2 linked regions of the Homo sapiens genome follow. The protein of the gene in region 1 purifies or fractionates together with the protein of each later gene. This does not show direct contact. Each region holds a gene or a part of one and is shown in the gene's direction. Other genes may lie near its edges.

The links.
Region 2: the proteins of DDHD2 (region 1) and CHI3L1 purify together in Homo sapiens (affinity purification with mass spectrometry; 2 studies listed by BioGRID and IntAct, with this or other methods). This does not show direct contact.

Annotation. Positions count from the first base shown.
Region 1 is NC_000008.11:38,248,457-38,255,728, forward strand, and holds part of DDHD2 (triacylglycerol hydrolase DDHD2), read left to right. Parts: intron 1-1,251; coding exon 1,252-1,347; intron 1,348-3,455; coding exon 3,456-3,572; intron 3,573-3,675; coding exon 3,676-3,831; intron 3,832-4,265; coding exon 4,266-4,368; intron 4,369-4,500; coding exon 4,501-4,671; intron 4,672-5,099; coding exon 5,100-5,262; intron 5,263-7,272. UniProt on the Homo sapiens protein: Diacylglycerol (DAG) and triacylglycerol (TAG) lipase required for proper lipid homeostasis in the central nervous system. It cooperates with PNPLA2/ATGL in neuronal TAG catabolism and hydrolyzes sn-1,3 DAG downstream of PNPLA2/ATGL.
Region 2 is NC_000001.11:203,183,471-203,191,081, reverse strand, and holds the start of CHI3L1 (chitinase-3-like protein 1 precursor), read left to right. Parts: upstream 1-4,377; 5' UTR 4,378-4,458; coding exon 4,459-4,483; intron 4,484-4,736; coding exon 4,737-4,766; intron 4,767-5,696; coding exon 5,697-5,898; intron 5,899-6,449; coding exon 6,450-6,506; intron 6,507-7,272; coding exon of another isoform or gene 7,273-7,290; coding exon 7,291-7,441; intron 7,442-7,611. UniProt on the Homo sapiens protein: Carbohydrate-binding lectin with a preference for chitin. Has no chitinase activity. May play a role in tissue remodeling and in the capacity of cells to respond to and cope with changes in their environment.

The DNA of each region.
Region 1 (7,272 bases):
ACTATACCAAGTACTGGATAGACTGGTGAATAAGACATATGATCCCTGACCTCATAGTGTTTATAGTTTACTGGGGAAGACACATGTTAAATAATCACACACATCATGGCAATTACAATAAGTAAGTAGGAAAAGTACACCGTGTTGTAAGAATTAACCTGGTCTCATAAGGTGCAGGAAGGCTTCCCTAATCAAATGAGTGATAGCTGGCTGGGTGTGGTGGCTCATGCCTGTAATCCCAGCACTTTGGGAGGCCGAGGTGGGCAGATCACGAGGTCAGGAGTTCGAGACCAATCTAGTCAACATGGTGAAACCCTGTCTGTACTAAAAATACAAAAATTAGCTGGGTGTGGTGGCACACACATGTAGTCCCAGCTACTTGGGAGGCTGAGGCAGGAGAATCGCTTGAACCCAGGAGGTGGAGGTTGCAGTGAGCTGAGATCACACCACTGCACTCCAGCCTGGGCGACAGAGCAAGACTCCATCTCAAAAAAAAAAAAAAAAAACGATGAGTGACACTTGAGATCTTGATTGTTAGTCTGTTCCATACTTGTGTGTTTGCTGTATGTTCTCAGTGCTTGCGTTCATCAGCAGGAGTATAATCCTTCTCAGGCATGTGACATCTAAGTCAGTATAGAAATCAAGGAAGTTTTTTTGTTTTGTTTTGTTTTTTTGAGACGGAGTCTTGCTCTGTTGCCCAGGCTGGAGTGCAGTGGCGCGATCTCGGCTCACTGCAAGCTCTGCCTTCCGGGTTCACGCCATTCTCCTGCCTCAGCCTCCTGTGTAGCTGGGAATACAGGTGACTGCCACTGCGCCTGGCTAATTTTTTTTGTATTTTTAGTAGAGACGGGGTTTCACCATGGTCTCCATCTCCTGACCTCATGATCCACCCGCCTCGGCCTCCCAAAGTGCTGGGATTACAGGCGTGAGCCACCGCGCCTGGCCAGAAATCAAGGAAGATTTTTATGTCCTGAAGTCCTTAGATACCCAACTTCTCTGTTTTTTTTTTTTTTTTTTAACAATAACAATGTCTATATTATTGTAACATTGATATTATAAGTATTGATATTTTCTATTCTTTTTTAGGCTGTTTCATGAATAAAACAGGTCCTTTTTTCTGGAAGTTATTCTATGATGTTTTACTACTAGAGAGACAGGCAGCAACAGAGTGCCTAGGCCTTGTTCCTCTTAGGGGACAGGATTGATTTTATTTTGTCTAGAAATAAGAAAGACTTGATTTTCTATGCCTAGGCTTTATGTACAGACCGAGATCTTCAGGAAATAGGAATTCCTTTAGGACCAAGAAAGAAGATATTAAACTATTTCAGCACCAGAAAAAACTCAATGGTATGTGCCTAATACAGCTTGTTGGACTAAACAATTCTTTGATGTCCATAGTGTGTCCTTGTGCTTTGTGGGATGTTTACTCTGGGGAGCCAAGCAGTTTTTTGGTAATTGATCTTTGGCTCTTTTTTTTTGAGACAGGGTCTCGCTCTGTCACTCAGGCTGGAGTGCAGTGGTGTGATCCCAGCTCATTGCAACCTCTGCCTCCCGGGTTCAAGCGATTCTCCTGCCTCAGCCTCTCGAGTAGCTGGGACTACAGGCGCCCACCACCATGCCTGGCTAATTTTTGTATTTTTAATAGAGACGGTGTTTCACCATATTGGCCAGGCTGGTCTCAAACTCCTGACCTTGTGATCTGCCCGCCTTGGCCTCCCAAAGTGCTGGGATTACAGGTGTGAGCCACCCGCCTGGCCGATCTTTGGCTCTCTTTCTAGAAATTAAACACATTTTCTTTTTTACATTCTTTTTTTTTTCTTTTCCTGGAAATGAAATCTCGCTGTGTTGCCCGGGGTGGAGTATAGTGGGTGGTCTCGGCTCACTGCAACCTCCACCTTCCAGGTTCAAGCAATTCTCCTGCTTCATCCTCTTGAGTAGCTGGGATTCCAGGTGTGCACCACCATGCCCAGCTAACTTTTTGTATTTTTAGTAGAGACGGGGTTTCACTATGTTGGCCAGGCTGGTCTTGAACTCCTGACCTCAGATGACCCATGTGCCTCAGCCTCCCAAAGTGCTGCACCGCTCCTGGCCCTTCTTTTTTTACATCCTTAAAAGTATTATTAGCTTCAGAAGTCTTCTCTCCTCTGGAATTCTCCTACCATTTATTTATTTATTTATTTTTTGCTTTTTTCTTTTCATGAGAGTTTTACCAATATCTACTTCACATCACATACCATAAAATTCACCCTTTTAAAGTTTACAATTTAATGGTTTTTAGTATATTCATAGAGTTATGTAACCATTACCACTATCCAATTTCAGCACATTTCCATTGTCCCTTAGGGAAACCCCATACCCATTTGCTGTCACTCCCCATTGCTCCCTGCCCCCAGCCTCTGTCAACCACTAATCTACTTTCTGTTTCTACAGATTTGCTTATTTTGGACATTCCATATAAATGGAATGTCCTTTTGAGCCATGTGTCTGACTTCTTTCACTTAGCATAATATTCTGAAGGTTTACCTGTGTTAACAGTACTTCCACATTCAGTTTTTCTGGTCACTGAATTTCTAACTCCATATCTTATTAGTTAGTTTTTTTCTTTTTGAGTCGGAGTGTTGCTCTGTCGCCCAGGATGGAGTGCAGTTGCACGATCTTGGCTCAATTGCAACCTCCGCCTCCTGGATTCAAGTGATTCTCCTGCTTCAGCTTCCTGAGTAGCTGGGATTACAGACACGCGACACCACACCCAGCTAATTTTTGTATTTTTAGTATGGGGTTTCACCATGTTGGCCAGGCTGGTCTTGAGCTCCTGACCTCAAGTGATCCGCCCACCTCAGCCTCCCAAAGTGCTGGGATTACAGGCGTGAGCCACCATGCCTGGCCAGTAGTTAGTTCTTTTCCAACTTTTTAGCAGGTGGCTCATTTCTTTTTAAAGACTCAGTTCTTGGCCCAGCCCATCGACATCCTACTTCCCTTGATTACAGAGGCACAGCACTTCATAGAACTCTAGCAATCCTCAGCATTATCTTCCCACAGTGCCCTGCTATTGTTTTCTCTTATGATTGTTGCCTAAAGTTTCAACGCTACTGAAATGGCTATGTACAACTTTCATCATTTTAGAGCATCTAAGAATGTCAATTAACAATTTAAGGCAATAATTTAATCTTGTTTTCTGAGGAAATCTTCCTAGAATTTTTGGCTGCCATTTCAGAACTTTCCCAAGGGTCCTTTCAAACCAGTAGAAAACTATATAATCCTTTGGCTATACTTTTACTATATAGTAGCTCCCCATACTTTTTTTTTAAATAGAGACTATGTTGCCCACGTTGGACTTGAACTCTTGGGCTTAAACAATCCTACCTACCTACCTACCTCAGGGTCCTGAGTAGCTGGGACTACAGGTGCATGCCGTCATGCCCAGCTTCTCCACATAACTATTTTTTATTCTTTAGGGTATTAAGAGACCAGCCCCGCAGCCTGCTTCAGGGGCAAACATCCCCAAAGAATCTGAGTTCTGCAGTAGCAGTAATACTAGAAATGGTGACTATCTGGATGTTGGCATTGGGCAGGTAACTAATTCTCTTTGATCATTTTACAGCCTGCTATTTGTATGGTAGAAACAGATGTAACTTTTGTTATTAATGAGAGATGCTTTTATTTTCCTCCTTTGAGGTGTCTGTGAAATACCCCCGGCTCATCTATAAACCAGAGATATTCTTTGCCTTTGGATCTCCCATTGGAATGTTCCTTACTGTCCGAGGACTAAAAAGAATTGATCCCAACTACAGATTTCCAACGTGCAAAGGTTTCTTCAATATTTATCACCCTGTAAGCATTGTACAGCTATTGTGGTTTTACCTAAATATCAGGGCTTATTGTTAAAGAACATAGGATTTTCTGTTGTGTTGATTTTTTTTTCCTATTCCATTGTCTAGCAATGAGACAACTTATAATAGTATTGATTTGGAAGTGATGGAGCAGAACTGTACATTTTTTTAAATGAACTTATGATTATTGTTTAAGATACATAGTTCTGGTTGTACATGGTGACTAATGCCTGTCATCCCAGCACTTTGGGAGGTCAAGGCAGGAGGATTGCTTGAGCCTAGGAGTTGAAGGCTACAGTGAGCCATGATTGCACCACTGCACTCCAGCCTGGGTGACAGAGCGAGACCTCATCTCAAAAAAAAAAAAAAAAAAGTTATATAGTTTCCAGACTGTGCTTAGCAGAGGTAAATGTAGCTCTTGTTTTTCCTATGTAGTTTGATCCTGTGGCCTATAGGATTGAACCAATGGTGGTCCCAGGAGTGGAATTTGAGCCAATGCTGATCCCACATCATAAAGGCAGGAAGCGGATGCACTTAGGTAAGTCCGAGCATAGAACTTGATAATTCTAGACCTTTTGGCCAGTGCAAAGGGCATCATTCACTCTGTTCAGCTATGTTGGACCCTAAGCTCTTTGTAAATCATTTAATGTTCTTTATTTATATGTTTCAGAACTGAGAGAGGGCTTGACCAGGATGAGTATGGACCTTAAGAACAACTTGCTAGGTTCGCTGCGGATGGCCTGGAAGTCTTTTACCAGAGCTCCATACCCTGCCTTACAAGCTTCAGAAACACCAGAAGAAACTGAAGCAGAACCTGAATCAACTTCAGAGAAGCCTAGTGGTCAGTGACACTGTACACATTGACCAGCTGCCAGATAAGAGGGATGCCATGGTGTGGCGTTTTTCATAGTTAATTTAATTTAATTTCACATTTAATTTCATAGTTAATATTGCATTCTTTTGCTTTAGTTTTCAACTTCTAAAGAGCTCTATTCCTGCTTGCATTTAGTATAAACCCAAGGCAAATGACCTAGCTATCAATGGTATAGGTAATGAGATGTGTTGCGCAAAAGCAAAAAAGGGGATTGGACAAAATTACTGTGACCTGAGAAGGAGCTTGAAGGAGATTGAGAGGAGGAAGATGGGAGAGAGCTCTCTGAACAGAGAGTAGCTCATTCTCTGGTAAACTTGGAGTGTGAGGAGAAGTTAACAGGATAACCCTGAAGGCCAAAAGGTTTTAGATTCTTATTATGGTTCTTCCATATCCAGATGTTAACACAGAAGAGACCTCTGTGGCAGTTAAAGAAGAAGTCCTGCCTATCAATGTGGGGATGCTGAATGGAGGCCAACGCATTGACTATGTGCTACAGGAGAAGCCTATTGAAAGTTTTAATGAGTATTTATTTGCTTTACAAAGCCATCTATGCTACTGGTAAATGTTGTTTATTTTTGTCTGTTTTGTTTGTTTACCTGTTTCATAGATATTTGATAGATGTAGAAAAAGGAGGATAGGCCAGGTGCATTGGCTCAGGCTTATAATCTCAGCACTTTGGGAGGCCAAGGTGGGAGGATTGCTTGAGTTCAGGAGTTTGAGACCGGCCTGGGAAACATAGCAAGACCTCATCTCTACAAAAACTAAATTAGCTGGGCGTGGTGGTATGCGCTTATAGTCCCAGCTACTTGGGAGGCTGAGGCAGGAGAGTCACTTGAGCCCAGGAGTTTGAGACCACAGTGAGCCATGATCACACCACTGCACTCTAGCCTGGGTGACAGAGCAAGACCCTGTCTCAAAAAAAAAAAAAGACCTGTGTACCTTTGGAATTAAAATGACTTCTCATTTAGACAGCACAAGCACAATCATGTCATTTCAAGAATCTGGTTTAAACACACTGTTGTTTTATTTTGCAGCTGGGTAGAACATGGTTGAGGCTAATGATGCCAACAACCATAAGTTCAATTATCTTGGTGTTAAAAATGTGTCTTTTGGCCATTTAGGTGCACATGAATGAACTGGAACAAATATTACTGTTGCTGGAAGTCTTATAGCAAACCCATTTGAAAGCATTTATGGTAGCTGTGACAGAATTAATTATTATTATTTTATCATTATTTGAGACAGGGTCTTGCTGTGTCACCCAGGCTGGAGTGCAGTGGCATGCTCATGGTTCACTGCAGCCTTGACCTCCTGGACTCAAGTGATCCTCCCCCCTCAGTCTCCCTAATAAGTAGGATGACCGTTGTGCACCACCATGCCCAGCTAATTTTTGTACAGACAGGGTTTCGCCATGTTGCCCAGGCTGGTCTAAACTTCAAGCAATCAATCCGCCTCCACCTCTGCCTCCCAAAGTGCTGGAATTACAGGCATGAGCCACCACGCCTGGGCAGAATTATTATTAAATATAATTGGTTACCTGATGGATTGTAGAATGGATTAATGATGCTTATTGAAATTCAGGCCGGGTATGGTGGCTCATGCTTATAATCCCAGCACTTTGGGAGGCCGAGGAAGGAGGATTGCTTGAGGCCAGGAGTTGAAGGCTGCAGTGAGCCATGATGGTGCCACCGCACCCTAGCCTGAGTGACAGAGCGAGACCATGTCTGAAAAAAAATAGTATAAAATAATACTAATTAATCCCTGAAGAAGTTGACATAAAAATAAAGTAAGGGAAATAAGATGGGTCAGAGATAAGTGTTTTAAAAATGAAAGCTCAGACCAGCATGGCCAACATGGCGAAATCCTGTCTCTACCAAAAATACAATTAGCCAGGTGTGGTGGTGCATGCCTGTAGTCCCAGCTACTAGGGAGGCTGAGACAGGAGAATTGCCTGAACCTGGGAGGCAGAGGTTGCAGTGAGCGAGATCACGGCCACCGCAGTCCAGCCTGGGTGACAGAGCGAGACTCCATCTCAAAAAAAAAAAAAAAAAAAGCAAGCTCAAAGGTCCTAAGAATAATTTTTCCCTTGAATTCTGATGAGGAATTATCATCTGATGCAATCACTATCGTTTGTATATAATATATACAGTAGAGGCCAAAAGCAATCTTGTAAGGGGCTAAAATAATGCTAAGAATGATCTCTGGTGATCTGGCTTGATAGAAAAGAAAGCAGAGTTCTTTTAATATTTCTGTGTGGGCAGTACATTCATATGGTTTGAAATTCAAAGAAAGAAAAATAATGAAAAGCCTCTTTTTTATTTTGTTTCTTGCAATCAGTTTCTTCCCCATATACAACTAATGTAAAATGTCTTCCAGCCATCTATTTTATGCCTCCATAATAAATATATGTATGTGAATATATTCTTTCCCTTATTTTAAAAACATAAATAGTAAATTAAAGGCAATGTTCTGTGCCTTGTTTTTTCTACTAGTATATCTTGGCATTTTTTAACCTATTATATGTTGTTTCCTCATTTTTTTTTTTAGCTGCATAGTCTTCCGTTATGT
Region 2 (7,611 bases), on another chromosome or scaffold:
AATACTTCACACATAAAAGTAATTTCTTCCCAGCCCTAGGGGCTTTACAAAGCCTCCAGACAGAAGCTCACTGTAAAGCATCACTATCATGTGGCTCTGGTTTCGCTAGCCATACAAAAAGAAAGTATTTATTTCATCAACACCTCCTGTTATGTCAATAGAAATAAATTTTGGTCAAATAAAACAAAATATCAATTTGATGATGCTGCATCAGGAAGTTATTAAGCAACATATACGGTTCAACCCATGCCTCAATGGCAAGGACTTGCCCACAAGGAAGGAAAATCCGTAGACGCAAAGCCCAACTCTTCACTCTACTGGCTTCATTCATGACCAAGTACCACTGCGGGGTGGGGATGGGAATAATTTGCATCTGGAGATAAGCCAAGAATAATAGGTTATCCTGAGTGGTTTAAGACACCAAAATAATAAGCCTTGGCTATTTCCCATAAATTTGGATTCCCAGCTGGGTGTGGTTGCACACGCCATTGATCCCAACACTTTGGGAGGCTGAGGCAGGAGGATGGCTTGAGCCCAGAAGGTCGAAGCTGCAGTGAGCCCAGATCACGCCACTGCACTCCAGCCTGGGTGACAGAGTGAGACTCTGTCTCAAAAAGAAAAAAAATTCCCCGAAAAAAACAATTTCATCCCTGATTTTTGCTATGCTGATAAGTGAAGATGTGTTGTAAAAATGATGCTGATCTCCACCAAACGTGATAACCTTGGGTCATTTTTTTTTCCCCTTCAAATACTTGTTGCATTTTGCATTTGACGAGCCAGCCATTCTGAAATCTGACTCGCTTCCGCTTTTCACAAGCAACTGTTTTCTTCTCTAAGTGTTTCTGCCTCTGAGTCTTCGACAGCTTCTACTGTGCGCCAGCACCACCACCGAGCTGAGGATTTGGAGATGATTTGAATTCCTGCCTGGCAGAAGTCCACCCTCTGGAGGAAGAGACTACTTGTAAAAGAGAGAATTCTCCTCAAGCATTTGGTGGGGCATCAACACCACCTCTGTTTGCTCTGACACGCCATGCAAAATGAAGGAATCCTCAAAACCACTGTGCCCAAGGGGCCAGCCCAGGCTCCCAGGAGCTTGTTTTCTGAATGGTGGTAATGTCCACCCTCTGGCTCCTGATCCAGACTCATCTTGTGCCTCCCTCGAGCTCCCTCCTGCTAATTCCATGCCTCAACCACTCTTGAATTCTTCTGGTTCCTGAACATAACAACCTCTTCCTGCTCCAGGTTTTTGCACAATTTTTTTTGTGTGTAGGGGACGGTGGGCAAGGGGCAGACTAACACCTGCCCTTCCTTCGTAATACATTACTTGCTTTTCTTTGTTTAATGTCCATCTTCTTTGCCAGACTGTATGCTTCATGAGGACAGGGACTGCCTCTCTGTTCCCATTCACCTTTCTGTCTCTACTGTCTACCTCAGTGGAAGGCAACTACTCTAGTACACTTACTTAATAAACATTGGTTGAACACTATCAATGTACTGTGGGGCCTAGAAATGTTTGATTAGGGAAATTAAGTCAGGAAGCTTGTTTTGTGGTTTTATGGCACCTCCTGAGTCAGTTCTTCACAGGGTAACAAAAACTATTGAATGAGATGAAATTTTGAGAACATCAGGGTTTAAACTCATAAGAGTGTGAAGTTATGCACCATTTTGAGATCATTTGTTCATTTATTCAACGAGTACTTTACTGAGCATCTACTATGTCTCAAGCACTGGGGATAGATACAAAGGTGGATAAAATGACCCAGCCGTTGCCTTTACTGAGTTTATAGTCTAGTGAGAGAGGCAAACAAAACATCCACTGCCACACACAACATATAAAATTATAACTGAGTCAGGTGTTAAGGAGAGAGGTACAAAGTGCTCTGACAGCCCTATAGCGGGTTTTCTGTCACCTGGAGACTGCCTTTTCTGCAGACAAGGTGACTCCTGAGCTGCAATCTGAAGGATGAGGAAGAATAAAGCAGTCAAAGAAGAGCAGTGTTAGGCTGCAATTCTCCATCCGCAATTCTCCAACCGCAATTCTCCATGGGTTGCCTGCATTTCCTGCACAGCTTATGTGCAGAGGCACTGGCTTCTTTGTTCTAGGCAATCTTTTTAGTGATGTTTGTACAGCAAACAGCCTTGGAAGATAGAAATAGCGTCCCCCCTCCAGACCAAAAGGCAGATTTGTTTACTGTCCAGTAATAAAGATAATGTCTCCCTTATCTTGGGCTGGCCAAGGTGAGGAAGGCTTACTGCTCATCATGAAAGATTTGAGTTCCTTAAACTAGGGATTCCTCTGCTGTGATGTAACTCATTGCATTCATGGCATCTACCTGGGCTCCTCCAACACTGCCCTTGTGAGACCTGAGGGCTAAGGGGAACTGACCCTAACATGAAGTTCATGCTGCTTGCTGTACCATGGATAATAAAGTCCTTTGTCTCTGACCTAGGAGTCTCGTGTCTTCTGCCAACATCCACGAAACTGTAGTTATGTCATTAATTTGCAAGTAGCATAAAATCTCAGATCTTTCATCGTTATTTACAGGCAAGTGGATGTCATATATAAAGGCCCTGTGGCGGGAGTCAGTAGAGCAAATATAAGGATTTAAAAGAAGACATATAAGCATGAGTGGAATATAGGGAGGGTGGGGGTCATGGCCTGAGATAAGGCTGGGAGGTGGTGAGCCTATGAGACCCTTGGCCAATCCTGCTAACACAGGCCTGGGGGTATCTTGGCCATTTGTTGTTACAAAGCTGCCTTCAGGCAGAGCATGTGGAATTAATAAACTGAGCTTGAGGGAGCATAGGACAACAAGGCTTGGGCCAATCTAAGCCTATGAAATAATTTTTAACAAAGGGAGATAGTGAAAATAGGAGGTGTTTTCTTAACATCCTGTGCTCTGTGATGAAAAATTTTGCATCTGCATGCCACTTCATAATATCACTATTAGAAATTAGAAGTCCTCCTCTCAGTGCCCCAAATGAACCAGAAGAAGCTATCATTGACTGTCATTGCTGTCAATCATCTTGGGTACAAAAGGAGGCAGTCATCTTAAAAAGGAAAAGTGATGCCTCTTTAGTATTCACCGAGCGTGATTCTGGACAAGCCACTTTTTGTCCACCTCTCTTACAATGAAGGGAAGGCACTGGCTGAGTTTTAAAGGAAGAGAAAGGGAGAGAGGGAGAGAAGAGGGAGAGAGCAGAGAGACCTCACCGAGAGAGCTGCAAAACCAGCCTGGAAAAATTAGAGTATTACCTAACATTAGTGAAAAATAAAGGTACTTTCTTGAGAAGCCCTTGGACCCATTCTGCCTCTTGGAGTTCTGAACTTTTCACTCACTGCCTATTAATTAATGTTAAGCCTGCAAAGAATGGAGTTGTCCTGGATATTTGGCCAAAAAAAAAATGTATCCACAAACAGGGACGTAATCAGGCAGGGAGCCTCGTTAAGAAGTTTTGTTCTTGTCCTAGGAGTGATGAGAGATCACTGAAGGATTTAGAGAGGGGCTGTATCATCAGGCTTGGGTTCCAAAGCCTCACTGAGAGAGTTGGGGAGCTGACTGATGTCAGATGCTCGTGCAGCCGCCCCGTAGGGCCTGTATTTCCTCCATGGTGCCTCACTGCAGCACCGAGCTTGCAAAAGATCCTCTCTCTTTATGGGAATTTCAAAACAGAAGCAAAATAGCACCGGGGCTTAAAGCATTCTTGGGAATTTCCCTGTCTTTCCCTCTAAATAATCAGCATGTAAATTGCAAAAAAAAAAAAAAAAAAAAAAAAAAAGACACGGGCCCAAAAGGGAGCGCTCAGTTTCAGGCTCTTTGCTTTCCTTCCTCCCGAGGCTCTCTGGCCCTTACCCAGCCTGAAGACAGAAAGTGTGAGGGGGAGGGTAGGAAGGTAGGTCAAGCAGGGCAATGCTGAGCCTGGGAAGAAAACAACAGCCTTGTTTAGGGCACTGTGGCTTACGTAACTAAATTGTGCCCAGTTTCCACCTGGCCAGGGGCCTGGAGTGAATGCTGAAGATGCAAAGGTAGAGGCTGCCAGAAAAGCCAGGAAATTGCTGGCAAGAAAGGCCAGTGGTGGGGTGCAGGAGTGGGAGGAAGGCTGGGAAATGCGGCTGAGTCACATCTCCAGAAGCCCCCCATCATCACCCTAGTGGCTCTTCTGCTGGCAGGTGCCTCATGAAGACCTGACCCAAAGTTTTCAAAACTCTGCGGTTTCTCAACCCTCCTCTGGTAATCCATAGTACTCCCCCGCCTCCACTTGCCAGCCTCGTGATTCCTTCATTGACACATAGCTCAGTTCCCATAAAAGGGCTGGTTTGCCGCGTCGGGGAGTGGAGTGGGACAGGTATATAAAGGAAGTACAGGGCCTGGGGAAGAGGCCCTGTCTAGGTAGCTGGCACCAGGAGCCGTGGGCAAGGGAAGAGGCCACACCCTGCCCTGCTCTGCTGCAGCCAGAATGGGTGTGAAGGCGTCTCAAACAGGTATCTGGGCTAGCCAAGGTTAATCCATCAGAGTTGTGGGTTTTCAGGCCCAGACAGCCCGCAGAGCCATCTGCCTGCTGGGTGAGGGACTAAGGGAGTGGGCAGAGGGGGAGGAGAAGCAGAGCCAGGGGAGGGACTGAGGCTGCAACCAGGAGGTGGGGGTGGGGGAGGTGGGTCTCAGTTGCTTGGGGGAGGGAGCAGGGCGGAAGGGCAGGATGCACTTGCAGGGGTCTCATCCTGGATTTCTCTTCAGGCTTTGTGGTCCTGGTGCTGCTCCAGTGCTGTGAGTAATCCCTCCACCTCCACTTTTAAGTCCAGAGGCGTGGCGAGGGCACAGGGCAGGTGTGGAGGAGGTCTTAGCTCCAAGGGAACACTTTGCCAGGTTCTTCTGTGCTTCCAATGACTTCGAAATAGTCACGTTTGCTAAACTGGAGTGAGGAGTATATGGATGTTTATTTTGCTATACTCTTTGGTATATGTGAAAATTCTCAAAATAAGAAACTTTAAAAGGTCCTGGTTCAGTGAAGGCTTTGACTAACAGCCCCTGGGAGCCGCTAGTACAGTTGCCCAGTAGCTGCTTGGATGAGTGATGCCCACATTGTTTGCAGCAGGAGAAACAGAATTAGAGGCGAGGAAGGATTTCCTGGTCCATTGTGATATTGTGCCCCAGCCTGGGGGACATGCCGAGGGAGCACAGGACTGCCATTCCGGGTGGGTTACAAGTTAGAGGCACTCTCACCAGGAGGCAGAGAAAGGTGGGCCAGAGTCCCTCATGGATGAAGGACCTCACTGCAGGTCACTAAAGGTGCCAGCCTGAAAGCCAGGGCCATCTGTGACACAGGCTATCTTGGGCCTTCCCCTCCCACAAAGCCACTGCTTCCAGGAAGCCTGCTGTGCTGGCACCAAGTCCCATTTCATCCTTATTCCCCAGCTCCTACCCTTCCCCCACACAGTGCCTGTAGCGTATTCATCCCCTGCATTGGATCTTTTCTAAGCATTTTCAGAATAGGCCTTATTTTCACCAGTCAGGGAACTCCCCAGAGGCAGGGGGACCTGAACCAGCTCCTTTCATTTAAGAATTCTGACTTTGCTCACAATCTGCACCCCACTCCTCCCTACCCAACCCCACACCCCATTGGTGCTCAGCTCTGGGCTCAGCCTGAGGTCTCTTGCCGAATCCTGGCCCGGGCCCCATCCCAGACTTCTCCTTCAGGCTCTGCATACAAACTGGTCTGCTACTACACCAGCTGGTCCCAGTACCGGGAAGGCGATGGGAGCTGCTTCCCAGATGCCCTTGACCGCTTCCTCTGTACCCACATCATCTACAGCTTTGCCAATATAAGCAACGATCACATCGACACCTGGGAGTGGAATGATGTGACGCTCTACGGCATGCTCAACACACTCAAGAACAGGTTGGGCCAGGGCTGGCCAGGAGAGGAGGGACCAGCTGGGCTGGTCCCAGGGCAGGGCAACCCCACCCAGGAGGAAGGGCGAGGCCCCACCCTGCTCACCTATGTTTGGAGAGTTAGAGGGGCTTGGCTTAAATGGGTGGAGGGGATGACTGTAGGTGCTGGGCAATATTTGGGGTGATGAGAGACTGTAGACGGAAGCGCAGCTGAGCCCCTCTGGGAGAGGGGAACCCTCTCCTGCCCCTAACGTGCTCTCCAGGGAGCATGGAAAATGAGCAAGACTCTACTTTGCCATACTCTGTCTTCTCCACTGGGGAAAACAAAAATGGGCAGCAGACCTCAGAGTAACTCCCATGAAGCCTGTGACCCCTCAGAGATCCACCACTATGAATCTCTATGGGATTCCCATGATGTCCTATGGGAGGACATCAGCGGCCTAACCCAGCCTCTCACCCAAAGCAGGAAACCTTCTATGGCCTCTCAGACATGGGGCCACCCAGTGTCATGACAATGTCATTCCACTCCTGCCCTCCCCACCTCCCTGTGCTCCACAGGAACCCCAACCTGAAGACTCTCTTGTCTGTCGGAGGATGGAACTTTGGGTCTCAAAGGTAGGAGCCTCTCCCCAGGGGCAGGACGGCAGAGGATGATGGCATAGGAGTGAGGAGCTTGGGTCTCCCGCATCCACTGTATGGATGTTCCAGGGGCTCCAGACTAGATAGGTACAAGGCCTACCTGTTTGTCAAGGGCCTGCCTGATGTGTAGCAAAGAAAGCAGAGCCCAGAGAGAGAGCAGGACTTGCCAAGAGTCACACAGCAAGTTAACAGTGGATCTCCCAATTCCCTGCCAATGCTCTATTTACTACCTCACAGGCCCGAAAATATGGGACTTCTGGGGCTACCACCATTAGGGCTGGAAAGAGAGAGATGGAAACCAATGGGGACATTGAGAAGTGGGGAGACCCTGGGAGGAGTCTTTGGATTAGGTGGGGTTGGAGCAGGGCTTGAAATGGGGGTGGTTATGGCCATCGTTGGCACCCATGTGCTGGGTACTCTTTCTGTGTCCAGCACCCTGTCTCCCCATGATCCCATGTTGTCCTCACAACAGCAAGGTGAGCTGTTATATTTGTCCCCATTTTACAGATGATGAAACTGAGACTCAGGTTATAACCTTTCACAGTGGCTGGCTAGTAAGTGATAGAGCCAGACTTGGAAACCTGGAATGCCTGGCTCTAAGGCACATGCATGCCTGGAGGCGACCCCTGTCCCAATCATGCCCTCCCAGAGCTGTGTGGCCTCAGGATCCCAGCTCTGCAGGTCCTGGAAACCCCACCAGAGGCCCAAGGCACCTAGCATATCAGTGCTGAGCATGCTACAGGGCTGATTTTGGTCCTAGATTTTCCAAGATAGCCTCCAACACCCAGAGTCGCCGGACTTTCATCAAGTCAGTACCGCCATTTCTGCGCACCCATGGCTTTGATGGGCTGGACCTTGCCTGGCTCTACCCTGGACGGAGAGACAAACAGCATTTTACCACCCTAATCAAGGTGCTGGTCAGGTCAGGGACAGGGAGGGAGGTGGGCAGGCATGAGGGAATGGGGTGGGCTAGAAGCCGGCGTCAGCTGCTGTCCTCCTGAGGACAGGTAAAGAGGGACTTCAGCCTCAGGGCAGTGTCCTGGGACCCTGTGCCCTGAAGATCTCACATAGCAAGGAAGGC